Linked DNA regions of Homo sapiens: all the other regions are linked to region 1. Evidence: fine-mapped expression QTL. A gene starts in region 1. Each other region holds a variant in brackets. All regions are shown on one strand. Distances are from middle to middle.

What was found. PIP is the estimated chance that this variant, and not a neighbour inherited with it, causes the effect.
Region 2: its variant is the best candidate, but not a certain one, in a credible set for the expression of PLEK in whole blood (INTERVAL, PIP 0.61).
Region 3: its variant is the best candidate, but not a certain one, in a credible set for the expression of PLEK in whole blood (TOPMed, PIP 0.80).

Annotation. Positions count from the first base shown.
Region 1 is chr2:68,362,016-68,367,689 of GRCh38, forward strand. It overlaps PLEK (pleckstrin), which reads left to right and starts at 3,267. Exons shown (of 9, transcript NM_002664.3): 1 at 3,267-3,378. The coding sequence starts at 3,337. It overlaps LOC101927723 (a long non-coding RNA gene), which reads right to left and starts at 4,389. Exons shown (of 2, transcript NR_187652.1): 1 at 3,400-4,389; 2 at 1-444. RefSeq lists enhancers at 226-295, 3,227-3,306.
Region 2 is chr2:69,186,346-69,192,019 of GRCh38, forward strand. All of the region lies in intron 16 of ANTXR1 (ANTXR cell adhesion molecule 1), which reads left to right. Among named protein-coding and RNA genes, the nearest start is that of MIR3126, 86 kb to the left of the region's middle. The variant G/A (reference allele first, on the strand shown) is at 3,165.
Region 3 is chr2:68,429,535-68,435,208 of GRCh38, forward strand. No RefSeq gene overlaps it. Among named protein-coding and RNA genes, the nearest start is that of FBXO48, 35 kb to the right of the region's middle. The variant C/T (reference allele first, on the strand shown) is at 2,725.

The DNA.
Region 1 (5,674 bases):
TCATTCTAGACACATATACATAAGATACTGGAGGAGGTTCTAATGATCTGATCTGGGAGAGGGATCTGACACAGCAGAAGAAAACTTGGTCAAACTCTGTTGAGAGAAGTCCTGAAAGGCGTCATTGATTCAGATAGTTCTCTTTACTGACCACTAGGTGTCGCTAAGTAGGCGCGATGACACGTGGCAGGAGGGGGAGGGGCAAAGGCGGCAGCATCCAGTCCATCAATGGCGATGTTCAGCAGATTCACAAATGCCGGAGGTTCCTTGGTGTCAAGACATTTTTACCCCTGCACCTATTCAGGCGCCTGGTACATACTAAACACTTAATACCATGTTTCTTGAAATGAATTATTCGGAACGCAGGGGGTGCTTTTACACCGGAGGCATCCAAAAATAATATGAGGTTTCTGAGTGAGGGTTCTTTAAAGCCTTCTGATCATGCTAGGACAAACAGTGAAGACATTCCAAATTAGAAGTCACTTGGTCAGTTAAACAAAAGGAGATATATTTAACTATGAAATCAGACTTGGTAAATCTAAGAGTGGTTTCCATTGACTATACAGACATAGCAAAATACTTGTTTGAGTGCAGATACAGAAAATTACCCTTTTATTTGTTCCTGTTTTGCTCAGGTGACATCAAACGTTGATCCCTCTACTCTCAGCCCCCAACACTTTATAACAATTTCTAATTAATTTTGGTGCAATGAGAAACTGAAAAGAAACCATCAACGATTTTAAGTAATGGATATTAGCATAAAATGAAAAGTGAGAAATACAGGGGCAGTGACTGTTAGCTAGAAACACAGCTGGAGGGAAGAGGAGAGGGAATCAGGAAGCTCTCAGAAAACCCCAAGAACAGAACTTCTTCTTTCCCCTAACTTTCCTGGCTCCTCAGATGCCCTCGTGGACGTCTGTCAGTTTTGCCTTTCTCGGAGCCATCGCTCATCTATTGTTAATAGCATCTTGATTTTACTTTAGGGGACACCTCCCTTCTCCCATTGAGCATGGTCCTGCTGGGGCTGTCGGTTCACATGTTCCCCCTTCAGATACCGGAGAGAGAAGCACTAGGCCAAGTTAGGCCAATCAGAGGCCTGATCCCTGGAGACTACTGCAGAGTCTGAAAACCACTGGCATTCTTTCATCTTGGTGTCTTGCTTCCTGGAACCCCACAACTGCCCTGATTCCTGTCCTTTCAAAGACCCCAGTCTTCATTTTTCCTGCAGTCTGTGGGCCACTCCATTCTCTTCCAGTAAATTCCTATTTGCCTCTATTAGCCAGAGTTGTTATCTGTTGATTGCAGTGAAAGAACACTGACGGGTGTAATGAGGAAAATCTAGTCCTACGATTGCTTTCATCATCTCTGTTGAACTTATCATTGAAAAGGATCAGCTCTAGGATAACGGAGATTTGCCTTGAAGATGAAGAACAACTAATATTTATGGATACTAGTTATGTTTCAGACACTCTTCTAAATACTTCCATGTCTATCTCATTTAATCTTCAGAATGACCTCATTGGATAGGTGTTATTATCCCCGTATTACAGATGAGAAAACTGAGGCACAAAGTAATAACAAACTTGCTCATTTTCACATGGTCAGATTAACGGGTCTCTAAGTTTATTCTATGGAATATTCGTTTTTCAGGATTATATTGGTTTCCTGGGGCTGCCATAACAAAGTACCACAAACTGGTGGCTTAAAACAATGGAAATTTATTGTCTTACAGTTCTGGAGGCCGTAAGTCTGAAATCAAGGTGTCGTCAGCACCATGTTCTCTATAGCAACTCTAGGAGAGAATTGTTGCGTGCCTCTTCCAGCTTCTGGGGGTTGCTGGCCATCCTTGGCGTTCCTTGGCTTGTAAATGCATCACTCTGTTGTCACATGGCTGTTTTCTGTGTGCCCTTTTCTTATAAGGACACCAGTCACATTGGATTAAGGGCCCACTTGTTTCAGTATGACCTCATCTTAACTAATTATATCTACAATGACCCTATTTCCAAATAAGGATGCATTCTGAAGTGCTAAGGGTTAGGACTTCTTTTTTGGGAGATCTAATTCAATTTATGACAAAAAAAGTTAACATAAATTGTTCAAAAAAGAATGCTATGGCGAAGTAAGTTTGGAAAACACCATTATAGGATTCTTTACTGTAGTACTTTGGCGGGGCGAAGGTCTTTAATTTGTTCATCATTTAGAGGAGTTGCCAACCTGGGATTATTTTGTAAAGTTTCTCAAAAACCTGTTTGATGATGGACTTCTTTTTACAGGCTGACTGTGAGATCAGCACTCAACGTGGAACACCTGTTCTCATGCCTGATGTGAGGCAGTGGCACCCTAGCACATCCCTCCCTGGTTCTTCTGCTTTCCCCTGTGACCTGCAGCGTCAACTTGAGACAACTTTTCTTCTCTGAGCCTGAGTTTCCTTACTCTAAGATAAGGAAAATAATATACTTTCCCTATGGGTTTGATGTGTGGACTCATTTTTGTTGTTGTTTGTTTTGAGATGAAGTCTTTCTCTGTCGCCCAGGCTGGAGTGCAGTGGACCAATCTCGGCTCACTGCAACCTCCGCCTCCCAGGTTCAAGTGATTCTGCTGCCTCAGCCTCCCGAGTAGCTGGGACTACAGGCACACGCCACCATGCCCGGCTAATTTTTGTATTTTTAGTAGAGACAAGGTTTCACCATGTTGGCCAGGCTGGTCTTGAACTCCTGACCCCAGGTGATCCATCTGCCTTGGCCTCCCAAAGTGCTGGGAGTACAGGCGTGAGCTACCATGCCTGGCCGATGTGCAGACTAATTTAGTTTAAAATAAGTAGGCTGAGAAACACTTGATACAGGGCTTGGCATAGAGAGAAGTAGGCATTCATTTAGTAGTTAACTTTGTTATGCTAACCAGATGGTTCTGAATTTCTTGGCATTTTTATTGGGCATTTCCAGGATCTCAAGAATAATCCTTACTCAGGACAATTTTCACCAACAAGTTTTTCTTGTTCATCTTCCTCTTCCTTTCATCACTTCTTTTTCTCTTTAAAAGAGGGATTTTCTGTATGGTAGTAAGAATTTCCCTTAGGTAAATATTCAACCCAACTGTGGTTTTAATAAGTCTCCAGCATTAGCAAGGAATGGGTGGTTTACTCTGCAGTTCCTTATTCTGATCTTCCAACCCAGTGAGGGGAAGAGGATGTGATCATGCGACCGCCAGCAGAAGGGAAATTGTGAAAGCGACCTGCTGTAGAAAAGGCGGCCCACAGCCACCTCAGCATGCAGAGGAGGCCCAGCTGCTGAGAGGAGTTGCCTGAGAGTGACCTTTGCATCTGCCTGTCCAGCCAGCATGGAACCAAAGCGGATCAGAGAGGGCTACCTTGTGAAGAAGGTGAGCGAAGGTGCCACTTACCAGGGTGTCAGTGGACATGGGCTGGGGAGACTTGGGTTCAGCTCCACCGGCTACCTGCTCATCTTAGGAATGTTTCCTGTTCAACCAGTTGGGTTGAAATAGGGGAGCGTGGTAGCACATAGAATGTTGGAGTGGGGTTAGGGGAGTGGGGATACTCATCCAGCCCCGGCTTCCTTACAGTTTGATATTACGGGTCTGAGAATTCCAGATGGCAGGGCCTGGAAGGTGGGGATCTAAGCTAACTCCCTCCAGATTTAGAATATCCTTTTTAAGAGGCACACAGATGTGTTCTGTCAGAAGATATACTCCTCTTCTATGGAGGTTTCTTGGAGGGACTATTCATTTTTTATTTAAATTCCACTTCCCCTCAGTTCTTTTTTTGGGAGGCAAGGGGAAAAAAGTGATTAAAGAGTTGATATAATGATAGAGTAATTACGGCTTATTTCTTGGGCCATCTTCTTGGAATTGACACGTTTAAAAAAAACCTTATCTTTTTTTAATTGGGCTGAAATCTCTTCACTCACAATTCTTAGTAAATTTGCATAATGTGGCATCGAGGTGGTAGATGCACCATTTTAAAGATTAGGGTACTGAAAAAGGCTTAGCCTCCCTGGTGTGCATCATGAAAATTGAATTTTCTTAGTGCTGTTTGTCTTTCTTCGGATGCTGAGTGTGTGCTGTGTGGTTGTGAAAGCTCCCCGGGATGTGAATTCACACATAGGACTTGGTGTCCTGTGGGCAACACCTATATACACAGATATGCTCACACTAACCTTAGTGAGTGGATTGTTTCAGAAATGAGCTGAACGTAGTGCCTTCCTTCAGGTGCTTAGCTTTTTAGTTGAATGAACAGTGAATGTGAGTCTGTTTTAGGCTACTCATTTGTTTCACGTTTTAACCTACAATGTTCTACCTGTAAGGGGGGTTAAATAGCACACATTGCTGCCTGCTTCCATTTTGACTTCAGGCTGGAGGGACCCTAGGTCATCTGGCCTAATTCCTTCATTTGCAGAAGAGGAGACAGACCCAGAAGGCTCGGTGATTGCCCCAAGTCACATGGCTATGACAGTTGTGACCAGCCACTCCTTCTCTGATGCTTAGGTTTCTGATTCATGGCACTGAACTTTGTTCATTACTCCAGCATTTTCTTAAAGCAGATTTATTCCAAGTTAGGATTTGTAGTGTATTTGTGATGGTGAGAGCTATGAGTTGGTACTGGAGAATAAGTGGGCCCTCAGCTGCTAATCTCTGTAGCCAGCTGTGCTTCGAAACATCCTTTGGAAAAGACACACTTATACATAGAAGTGTAAAAGATTACTTGCAATAGGCACCAATAATAATTGGCGAGACCTGGTAATAATTAATATTGACTTATTCCTTTCCTGATCACTTGTGCTAGTATCCTGAGAAGAGCAAGTGAATAGGAACATTTCTGCAAGTTTTTGTTTGTTTTTTTAAACAATTAAAAACATCTTGCAATGAAAATTGCTGTTATAAAGTTTGTATGCTCATATTTTAATCTCCCTAAATTACAAAAATATGAAGACTAAATTTCTAATAAGTGAAGCTGTCTCACTAAAAATTGGGGATGATAGAGTCAGGGTTGTCAAGCATGTGGATTTAAATTAATAAATAGTTTTTAATTAGTGAGAGTAGTTCTCTCAGATTGTAAAAGCCAATCTAGAAAATGTGCCTGGAATTAAATAGTGAAATTTTGTATTGATAGTTTTACAATTTATATCTTCCATAATTTTCATGTTTACAAGTTACATCTTCCATAATTACTGCATTTTTCTCTGGGACCTTTTGAACACTCTGATATAATGCATTAAGATTCTCTTTTTTTTTTTTATTCTTCTAAAACTTTAATTTTAGGTTCAGGAGTATAGGTACAGGCTTGTTATATAGGTAAACTCCTGTGACAGGCGTTTGTTGTACAGATCATTTTGTTACCTAAGTACTATGCCTAGTATCCAATAGTTATTTTTTCTGATCCTCTCCCTTCTCCAACCCTCCACTCTCACATAGCTTCCAGCGTCTCATTTGATATTTTAAAGAAATGTTTGGTCCAGAAATATTCCCTTTTTCAGCTGCAGAACTAAACCTAAAGACAGAGTTTCCTGAGAAGGTATTAAAGTTCTTAACTACTTTAGACATTAAGTTTCCTTCAGTTACCTCACGTGTGGGTTAAAAACTGTATATGTCAAGAATCTGACATATAATTGGTGTACATAAGCTGCATAAGACACTGATTATTTGTATCAGCATCAATATA
Region 2 (5,674 bases), 820 kb after region 1:
TCCTATTTTACATGATGTTCGATCCACAATGAGTCCCGTGCTAGCCACAATGCCTAAGGACATTTGCTCAGCCTTGGACAAAACATTTAGCCTTATGTGGTACCATAAACTCTGCTTCCCTTTCCCGAACTCACCGTGGTCCTAATAGGAAACAGAAAGCACACTGAAAAGAGTTGAACTAACAGAGATGTGGGCAAAGCGAAGGGAATCCCCAGGGATGATGGGGCAACCAGGGGCTGGCAACAGCGAGAGCTGTTACACCTGAAGAGCATGTGGGGAAATGGTGTTACTGGGTTCCAGAAAGAGCTGTAGCCCTGCAAAGAGACTACTCGACAGGAACTGTTTCTTTAGTTGACAATCTAAATCCACCTGTTTTTATATGATCTGCAAACAAAGAATGGTTTTTACATTTTTAAAAGGTTATATAAGTACCTATATAATGTTGCCTCTTGCCCTGCAAATCCTTGGCTCTTTACAGACCAAGACCAAAGGGCAGCTAGGTGATCCAGAGGCAGGCTTCCAAGGCATGGAGAAGGCAGGCAGAGAATGGATGGGGGCCGGCAGGTCAGGGAGAGTGACCCATCCACTCGCTGCCTGCCTTGTACCTCTGCTATAAGCAAGGAGAACAACAGCTCTACCTCACACAAAACTGTCAGCAGGTATTGGAAAGACTCATGGCTCCCCAGTGAAAGGAGCCAGAATCGTGTACTTACTGAATTGCATTGCATTAGACCCATTGCTTTACATGAAATGGGGTTTTTGAGAAGCAGGTGAGCACATTTGCCAAGCAAACCCAGAGAGAACACACGGAGGGAAGAAGTCCACAGTGGGCTCTTCTCCACCCACCATCTCCCCGTCTAATTTAAGGCACCAACCACACCAACCACACTTCCCCCCTTCCTCATTCCAGACTCATGATCGGGAAATTTTCCCTGATATTTAGCCTGCATTTTCCTTTGCTTGGTTTTCACCCCCGGATTTACAATACCCCGTGCTTCTCATTAAATTGGAGCTGACCATTTCAGACAAGTGAAGTCATGCCCAGCTATATGGGCAAATTTTCTTAAAAACCAAAAGAAGAAAAAAAAAAGCGCAACAAAATCTATCCTATGCATGGCATGCACACACTCATGAGTGCATGTGTGTCTGTGTGTAGGGAAAGTTTCTGACGTTATCCGTTAAATCCATTAATTTATTTCCTTTGGGGGAAAGCTGGGTCACACTATTTATCATGTATTTCTTTTTTTTTTTTTTTTTTTTTGAGACAGAGTCTCACTCTGTCACCAGGCTGGAGTGCAGTGGCGCAATCTCAGCTCACTACAACCTCCACCTCCCAGGTTCAAGTGATTCTCCTGCCTCAGCCTCCCGAGTAGCTGGGACTACAGGCGGGTGCCACCACATCCAGCTAATTTTTGTATTTTTTTTGGTACAGACTGGGTTTCATCATGTTGGCCAGGATGATCTCAATCTCTTGACCTCTTGATCTGACCGCCTCGGCCGCCCATAGTGCTAGGATTACAGGCATAAGCCACCGCACCTGGCCTACCATGTATTTCAAAGTGTAAAAAGTCAGGTGTCAGTTTATAGTGGCCTTATAAGTTGAACTACTCTCAGAATTCTCAATCTCTGACTGTCTTCCAGCTGGCTAAGGCAGACAAACCAGAAGAAAAGATACAACTGCTGCCTGGCAAAAAAAAAAAAAAAAAAAAAAAAAAAGAGGAAACCCCACCACAAAAGCTGATGACCCAGGGTGCTTTGGGTTTTTTGTTTGTTTGATTTAAAAATAGGGTCTTGTTCTGTCGCCCAGGCTGTAGTGCAGTGGTGCGATCATATAGCTCACTGTAGCATCAACCTAGGTTCAAGGGATTCTCCTACCTCAGTCTCCCAAGTAGCTGGGACTACAGATATAAGCCATCACACCCAGCTAATTTTTTTAATTTTTTGTAAACATGGGGATCTCACTGTGTTGTCCAAGCTGCTCTCAAGTGATCCTCCCACCTCAGCCTCTCAGAGTGTTGGGATTATAGGCATGTGCCACCGTGCCCGGCTCCCTACCTCCAGAATGCTATGAATGCTGGCTGCATAATCATTCCCAGCACAGTCTTATTGCTTAGAAAGAAACCAAAGCTAGAGTTTACATAGAACTTCCACTTTGCCTTTGTGAATTGGCAGGTATTTTCTGTGGCTAAGATACAGTTTGGGAGCATGGAATTGGTAAATTTCTCATTTTATAGTCAAAATTTGTCAACTTCAAATGAAAGAAAGCTATTTATAAATGTCAGCTAATACAATCTGCCAGAGGGCTTGAGGCTTGTGGATAAATCTTTGTCCTAGCTTCACAGAAGCAGTTGGGCATTTTGCCAGGGAGTGAGGACCAGTGTCTTAAGTGCATGCTGTGGAGAGGTTTGTGCATGACAGACATCCAAGTCTGAGATAGATAAAGCGGAGGCAACTCAGAAGGATCCTCTAAGACTTTAGGTGAAGCCCAGAGACTGTTTAGAAGACTCTTCTATGGCACATCTAGCCCCAAAGGGTTGTTATTAACGAGCCCACTACTACTGTCTTTAAATGACAGACTTCTGCCTACATTCAGAAAAATCAAGGTTCCAAGAGCCTTTGTCATGCAGTGCTCATTGAATTTTGAGAGTTATTTTTTATTCTGATTTTGGTTGTAAACACTGTTTTTTCTAAAGCTTACTTCTTGGTTGCAAACACTGTTTTTCTAAAGCTCTTGCATAAAAACTACCTGTTGTAGGAGTAGAAAGAGGTTATAGGTTGTATTGATTGCCTGGATTGTTTTCTATGCCACAGACTGGAGAGTTTAGGTTCATTTGTGGGACAATCAGAACTCAGAATGCTAAGGATACACCTGGAACTAGCTAATCTCGCCTTGGCCAGAAGAGCCCAATGACAGCAGCTCACCCGGATCAAGCATGCCCTGCAAGTCGGGCAGCGCTTTCTATGCACTAATGCCTTTATTATTGATAACAGCCCTTGAAAGTAGAAAGTACTTATCCATCGGTAAATAGACACCCAGATCAGTAGAAACTACAAATGCAAAACCAGAGCACAGAGGGGTTAGGTAACTTACCCAAATTCACACTGGCCAGTAAGATGTTTCATGGTTCATTTTATTGACTGCAGTGCATCCATTTGGGCTCACA[G/A]TAAAATTCTTTATTAATCAATAGGAGAGAGGACAGGAACCCTGGAGATGAAAGGCCAATCAGGAAACTATTCCCAGAATGAGTGACAGATGATGAGGGCCTGGGCCCAGGCAGGAGCTGTGGAGGTGGTGGGTCAGGGGTGGATGGGAAGAGGCGGCAGCAGAGCTGCTACAGAGAGAACATTAACGAGACACGGTTGATGTTGGACATGAGCAGGTGGCAGAGAGAAGGGAGGTTAGAATGATTCCTGGTACCCAGTGTGCCCATCTGGAGAGATTGGTGGTGCCATGAATCAAGGCAGGGTGTGCAAAAGGAGGAGCAGGTTTGGGGAGAAGAGTTAGTTCAGTTTATAATGTTTGACTTTTTGATAGCTGTGATGTGATATGATACATCCACATTACAATTAAGATTTAATAGGTAAATAGATACCCAGATCTGGAGCTCAAGAGAGGACTGGGCTGAGTATAGAATTTTTGAGTTGCCGGCAGATAGGTGGAAGTTGGACCCATGAGACTAGATGAGAGCACTCAGCTGAGAGATGAGAATAGAGGTGCCAAATGAAGGCCACCATGTCAGGTGTAGGCAGAGGGGGAGGAGCAGAAGAAGCTGAAAAGGACTTGGCAGAGAGGTCGGAGGGAGCAGGTAGAAGCTCGTGGCACAGAGACTGAGGGAGAGTGTGCAGGGGAGAGGCCCAGCACAGCGGATCTCCCCAAAGAACCAAGCAAAATGAGTGTCAAGGCATTTGGCAGTCGGGATGCCGTGGGTGGCCTTAGCAAGAGCAATTTGGGTGGAGTGATTGGGGCAGAAGGAATAAAAACTGTGGCTTGGGGGTAAGAGGAAAATAGTCTTGGAGAAGCACAGAATAGAAGATGGACAGATGCATGCTTACAAAGTTCAAATTGCTGGATTCCTACACTCTGTATTACATTCTTTTCCATCTCTCTACAGAGCCTCCCAAATGATCATTTTAATGACTTTACTATGATCATAGGTAACATTTAATGAATACCTTTTATGAGGCAAGTACCTAACTTCAATATTTAATTTTAAGTCTTATAGCAAGTCTGTAGAGTAGACAGTATTATCATCTCCACTTTAAATATGAGAAAAGTAAGGCTTAGGGAGATGAAACTACTCATCTAACCCATAGAGCTGGTGAAAAGGAGACCCACAGTACAAACTGGGGCAGGCTGGCTTCAGTCACTTTGTGCTTAAACACTACACTGTAGGGTGATCTGTTGCCACAAAGAAACATCATTTTCTACTCATTCTCCTGGTATTATACATCTAGGTGGTTTCTGGTCTTTTGCTATGCATGTAACTTTAAATTTCTGCTGAGTTAATTAATGTGTTCCTTCAACAGCCCAGTGTTCTTCTTTCTGCCCCATCTCATTGCCCATTTGTCACAGAGTTGGGTGATTAGCACACACAGCTCTGTGGGTGGGCTGATTTACAAACCCAAATGCTGGGAGTCCTCTCCTTCTGAAAACGAAGGGGAAAGAAAAAAGAGGCATTCATCCAGGAAACCCACCTGGTTACATCCTGAAATATAAATGCTTATCCAAAAGAACCTTAAAGGAAAACATTTAGCTGGTGATTGGAACGGCTTAATACAGAAAACCATGCAGCACACAGCAGCAGTTCTATCCAGCATTCTAAAATCATTTCAAAATATTTTTCAAGGCGTTTGTAAATTCCTTGCCAAAATAGATGAGAAACACTACACTTGGCAAGACAAAGTTTAACCCACAAGACAAAGTTAAACCCACAAGAACTCAAACAACAGTTTATAAAGATTAAAGAACACAATTTTATATGTGTATATAATCCACCAGAAAATCATTTCAGAACATGAAATATTTGAGATGCTTCTTAACACTGCCCCTATATAAATGCTTTGTGTCCAGGAACTTAAACTCTTTAGACTCCTCCAGCCTTCCCAGCACTGTCATTCAAAGACCCCTGCAAGATCAGGATTTTCAAACGTTCCTAAGGCTTGGGTAGGAAATACATTTTACATTTTGGCCCAGTTTGTGCACACACAGTCATACACACACCCATACACACTTAACTGAGATAAATTTTTCACAAAATAATGCTTATCCTCACCATGTGCAATTACTATTTTCTCTTCTATTCTATTTCTTAAAAGTTCTGGTCCCATACAAAATTGATTTCATAAGGGCTTAAAGGGTTGCAACCCACAGCTGAGAAACCCTATGTTCTAAAGGATCTAAATTAAAGCGCTTTCACCAGAAGATCTGCATGAGGAAGAATCTGCAATTGGTGTAATAGAAAGCATATGTGATTTGGAATTAGACAGACATGGATTCCAATCTCAACTCTGGTTTATAAACCATCTGCCTTTGGGCAAGTTACTTGATCTCTCTTTGACCCTCCATTTCCTCTCCACAGCCCTCTGGGACTGCTGGGACAATTCAATTAGAGAACACTCATGGAAGCACCTACCACTTAGTTACATTCATTCCTCCAACAAATATATATTGAGC
Region 3 (5,674 bases), 68 kb after region 1:
GAGATTGAGCTCAGTCACCAATGGCCCATGATTTAGTCCAGGGTTCCCCAACCCCCAGGCTGTGGACCAGTACCAGTCTATGGCCTGTTAGGAACTGGACTGCAAAGCAGGAGGCGAGCAGTGGGTGAGCAAGGATTCCCGCCTGAGCTCCGCCTCCTGTCAGATCAGCAGCAGCATTAGATTCTCGTAGGAGTGTGAATCCTATTGTGAACCGAGTATGCAAGGGATCTAGGTTGCGTCATCCTTATGAGAATTGAATGATAAATGTAATGTGCTTGAATCGTCCTGAAACCACACCCCCCATCTGTGGAAAAATTGTCTTCCATGAAACTGGTCCCTGGTGCCAAAAAGGTTGGGGACCACTAATTAGTCAATCATGCCTACCGAATAGAAACTCCATAAACCCCCTAACTGACAGGACTTGGAGGACTTCAGGTTGGTGGAAACACAGACCTGCTGGGAGGGTGCAGCATGTGGAGCAGGACGGAACCTCTCAGCTCCACCCTCATACTTTGTCCTGTGTATCTCTTCATCTGGCTGATCTTAAGTGGTATCCTTTAAAATAAACTGCTAATTGTAAGTAAAGCACTTTCTTGAGTCCTGTGAGCCATTCTAGCAAATTATCAAACCTAAAGAGAAGGTCATGGCAACCCCCAATGGATAGCTAGTTAGCCAGATGGACAGGTCACAGTTTGGGACTACTGACTGGTGTCTAAATTTGGTTTCAGCCTTGCGAGGCTGAGTCCTCAACCTATGGGGTCTGCACTAACTCTGGGTAGTTAGTGTCATGAGTAAATTGTAGTACACCCACTTGGTATCTGGAGAGTTGGAGAATTGCTTAATGTGAGGTAAACTCCACACATTTGGTGTGAGAAGTATTTTGAATGTATGAATTTTTCTTTCCTTTTAGGGGTGCAGTGTACAAATTGGGCAGTTGCAGGAGGGAATCATAGGCTGCTGCTGGGATGTGCTATGACTTGGTCTATGAATTAGCTACACTCAATTAATATGTGGAAGACAACTCTTCAAGCTGTACACTTAAGATGAGTGTACTTTTTGCATTTAATTGTATATTCTTTCTATAAAAATTATTGTATGAGTTTCCTATTGTTGTAACAAGTAACCACAAATTTAGAAGCTTAAAACAACACAAATTTATTATCTCACAGCTCTGGAGGTTATAAGTCTGAAATGGGTCTCGAGATGTTGGGAGGGCTGCATTCCTTGATGGAGGCTGTAATTTTCTAATTTTACTATTCACTTATCTTTCAACAGATGCTCAGTGATTGTCAGCCACTAAAAGCCTCTAATTACAACCTATCTGCACTTCTAATTCCACCCTATTCTCCCCATGCAGGTAGATGACTAGGTTAGGCTTTTATTTTCAAGAAGGCTAAAGAATAAGGTACATTCAGCTTGTTAAAGGCATATTCAACTTATTGATACTATCCTGTTGCCTATACATTTACAGACATTCATGTGACTATCATTATTATTAGAGAGAATGTTCTAATCATTCTCTCTCTATAAAGGTGTTTTCTCAGGGCCCACTGTATGGTTAGAAATTGGAAAAGACCTTCCAGTTTCCTTCACAGATGATTCTCCTCACATTCTCTCCATTTGCTTTTTTAATATATTTTTTGAGACAGGGTCTTACAATGTTACCCAGTCTGGAATTCAGTGGCGTGATCAAGTCTCACTGCAGCCTCAACCTTCTGGGTTCAAACAATTCTCTCATCTCAGCCTCCCAAATATCTGGAATTACAGGCCTCTCGATATATTGTCCAGGCTGGTCTTGAACTCCTGGGCTCAAGTGATTCTCCCATTTCGTCCTCCCAAAGTCTTGAGATTACAGGTGTGAGCCACTGTGCCTGGCCTTCATTCAAATTTGCCTGTGTATTTTTTTATTCTTGACAAATGAGTCAGCAAAGTTGCAAATGTCCCCTTATTTGACTTGGTTCAGTGTTTCAATGTCATTCCAAAACAAAGATGCCAGGGATGCTGTTCCAAAGTCTGTGGTCTCTATGTGTATGGAAGCACTAGTGAGGGCACGCTATTTCTCTTTCTACTCAATCCACACACTGGGATGATGGCTACAAATGCTCATTGTGTTACGGGATCCTTGTGGTGTCGCTTCGCCTGCTGGAAACCTCTGTGGCCAGTGGTGCCTTTGCCCAAGTTTTGTTCTGGCCTGCTGGGCTTGTTCCACCCAGTTGGCCCAGCAGGCTGCACTCAGCTCATGCTACTGGCCTGGATCCCATGCCTGCCAAGGGCAAGCCAGGCGTGGAGTAATGAAGGGTATGTGAGTGAGCGTGGGGTCTAGCCACCGCACATAGCTGGGCATGCCAGCTGCTGCTGTGGGGCAAGCAACTCCAGGTGCTGGTGTGGGTGCTGGCTCCCTGCAAGGCTGCATCTGGACTAGGTGCACCACAAGCAGCTTCCATAGCTGGCACTGGCAAATGCTCTGGGGCCTGGAAGCTTGCAGACTCCAGAAGCTGCAGGGCTCCAAAGAGGGAGTCACAGCCCTGGCTCAGGGAACACCCAGGCCTGGGATCCCCAAAGGGCCGCAGCTCTTCTCTCCCTCTTTTTGCCTGCAATGTGGCGAGCAGGGGCATGTTTCAGCCCTGTTTGTGTTACAGCTCTTTTAGCCCTGCCATTCAGTGGGTCCTGAGTTCTTGTCCTATGTCCAGGAAGAATGAGGTATGCAGGCAAGTGGAGGGTGAG[C/T]GAGATGAAGAGGAGTTTTATTAAGCAATAGAACAGCTCAGAGGAGAACCACAGTAGGTAGCTCCTCTCTGTAGCCAAGGTGTCACAATGAGTGGTCAGCTCTCGCAGAGAGGGTAGCTCCCCTCTGTAGTCAGGTAAATCCGAGGAGTGTTCAGCTCTCAGCAGAGAGGGTAGGTCCTCTCTGCAGGCAGGTCATCCTGTCACCTCTTCAGTTCTCAGCACAGAGGTAGCACCTCTCTGCAGGCAGGTCATCCTGTTGTCTCTGCAGCTGTCAGCAGAGAGGAGGCCCTGGAGTGGGTGAATCCTCTCTTCAGGCAGGTCATCTTGTCATCTCTTCAGCTCTCAGCACAGAGGTAGTGTCTCTCTGCAGGCAGGTTGTCCTGTCATCTCTGCAGCTCTCAGCAGAGAGGAGGCCCTGGAGTAGATGGATCCTCTCTGCAGGCAGGTCATCCCTTCATCTCTCTGTCTTCTCCCCATCATCTCTCCATCCTCTCTTTGACTCTGGCTGAGTCTGGTGTTTTTATAGGTCTCAGAGAGGAGGAAGTGTGTGCTGATTGGTCCATGGGCAGCCATTGGCAGGCCCAAGAAAAAGCACCACAAGTTCTCCCTTGGGTCCTCAGGACTGGCGGCCCAGCCCCCAGGCTTCAGGCCCTCCCCGGCTTGAAAGTGCGGCTTCACCAGGTACCCACCCACTTCTACTCAGGAGCCTGTCTGCCTCCTGTCACTGTTCGTGGCGCTCAGGCTTTTCATGCCAAGGGGCACCTTTAGGCCAGCACTGGGCTTTCTCCAGCCCCCCAACTCAGCCTCCCTCCTGTGTTTGTCAATGCCCTAAGTCCAGACGGGGCCGAGGCAGCAGGGGGCTGGCGTGTCAGTGCTTCCCCGAGTGTGTGCACACCTGGCTGGGCTGTGACAGCACCTGAGCTTGGCCCCGCCTTTGCTCCAAGATTGGAGCAGGTGCTGGCAGCAGGGAGAAGCCAGGCAGTGGAAGCAGGCATTTCCTGTCCTGCAGGGGAAGGGGGCATGCCTTCTCAGGCCTCTGAGAGTGCAGAGATGCTTGGATCTGCAGCCACAGCTTGGGCAGCTGCCGCTGTGCCTGGGATGGTGGGGCTCCTGCCTGCTTCTGGCTCCTGAGAGCACAGGGGTGCCCTGGTTGCTGCTGCAGCTTGGGTGGCTGCAGTTGCCTCTGGGGTGCTCTGCCCTGCCAACTCGGAAAGGGCGGGGCTCTTGCTTGTTCCCAGCTCCTGTGTGCTCCATGGAGTGCACAGTCCTGGCCACACCTCCTTCCTACATTTTCCCTGTAGCAGCAGTGGATGAGGTGCAGGTTGGGCAGCGACCCCAGCCAACTCCTGCACAAATGAACCTGATGCTCCAGGGGCAGCCCTGTGAGTCCCAGCTGTGCCTGTGGCTGGGTGCTCATGGGTTCCTGGGATGCAGCAGGGAGCAAGGCTGAGGCCCTGGTGGAGACTACAGGCCTGGGAGTGGGTCCTGCCCAGCTGTATGAGAGTGGGGTTGGTACAGTTGGCCGTCTTGGGGACACAGGGCACAAGGGCCCACTGCTGCCACTGCTGCCCCTGAAGCCACTCCTGATGCCACCACTGGCATCTCCCCACTGCAGGCAGCATGATGGCAGCAACCCCTCCAGAAGTCCCACCGCCACCATCAATTGGTTGACTGCCTTGCATACTTTCTCTTACAAAGCCAGGTTTTTAAAAGCTGAAATTTCTAAAATCAATAAAAGTGTTAGTTGAAAAGCGAAGTCTCAAAATTACATATACACATAGTTTATTAAATAGTTAATATAGGCAAATTAAGATTTAAAATGGAATAAAATTTAAAGTAATATGTAGGCATTAGTACTGTGTGATTCTTGTATTAATCTGTGTGCAAACAAATGCTTATATAGCATTTACTTTTTAATTCATTCAAAATGAAGTTAAACACGTTAGAAAGAGTTGTTACTACAGGGTATTCAAAAATGGGAAAGTATCTACCCTAGAACTTTGTTTTTTTACTTTTTTTTTCAAGAGTAGAGACAGGGTTTCACCATGTTGCTCAGGCTGGTCTCAAACTCCTGGGCTCAAGCCATTCTCCCACGTCAGCCTCCCAAAGTGCTGGGATTACATGAGCCACCATGCCTGGCCTAACCTACAACTTTGAAAAGAATGCTCTCAGGTAGCCATTTACCTCCTGTTAGATAAAAGGGCTGGGGAGAGTGTTTGCAAGACGTTTGTTCTTCAGATTCTAAAAATATGTCCTTTAGTCAAGGTTGGGGTATTCACTCTTCTTGGAAGATTAATAATTAGGCTGTACCTAGTTACCATAAAAATATTCTGATCAGCTGTTTTTATTCATTGCATTCAATTAATTGATATGCATTCAAAATACTTATCAATTAATCACTACATGCCAGGCAATATTTTAGTTGCTGACCTCCTTGAGCTGATATTCTTACCAAATAGCTTTATCTATTTATGATGTTTATCACATTATAAATATGTCATAATGATATTATGACATTAATATGTGAGATAATAGGAATAGAGTCAAGGGTCAGTGGCCAGTGGTGTTCTCTTGGCAAGGCTAGACAGGGAAGTCCTTGCTAATAAAATGGCACTGGAGCAGAAACCTAAAGGAAGAGAATGAGCCATGTTGACATCTGGGGAAAAAGCATGCTAGACAGAGGAAACTGCAAGTGCACGGCCCTGAGGCATGAGTCTGCCTGAGGAGCATCAAGATCAGTATGGCAAAAGCACAGTGGGCATGGGAGATGGGGAGAAAAAGGGCCTGAGGGTGAGATGAAAGTAGCAGTGGAGTGGTGGAGTAGTGAGCCATCAGAGCCAATTGGCCTACTGGTTCCATCATTTGACCTATGAGCAGCACTTGATGTCAATAGTCCCTCCCTTCCTCCTTGCAGCATTTCACTTTACTTCCTAGTTTCCCTCTGTCTCAC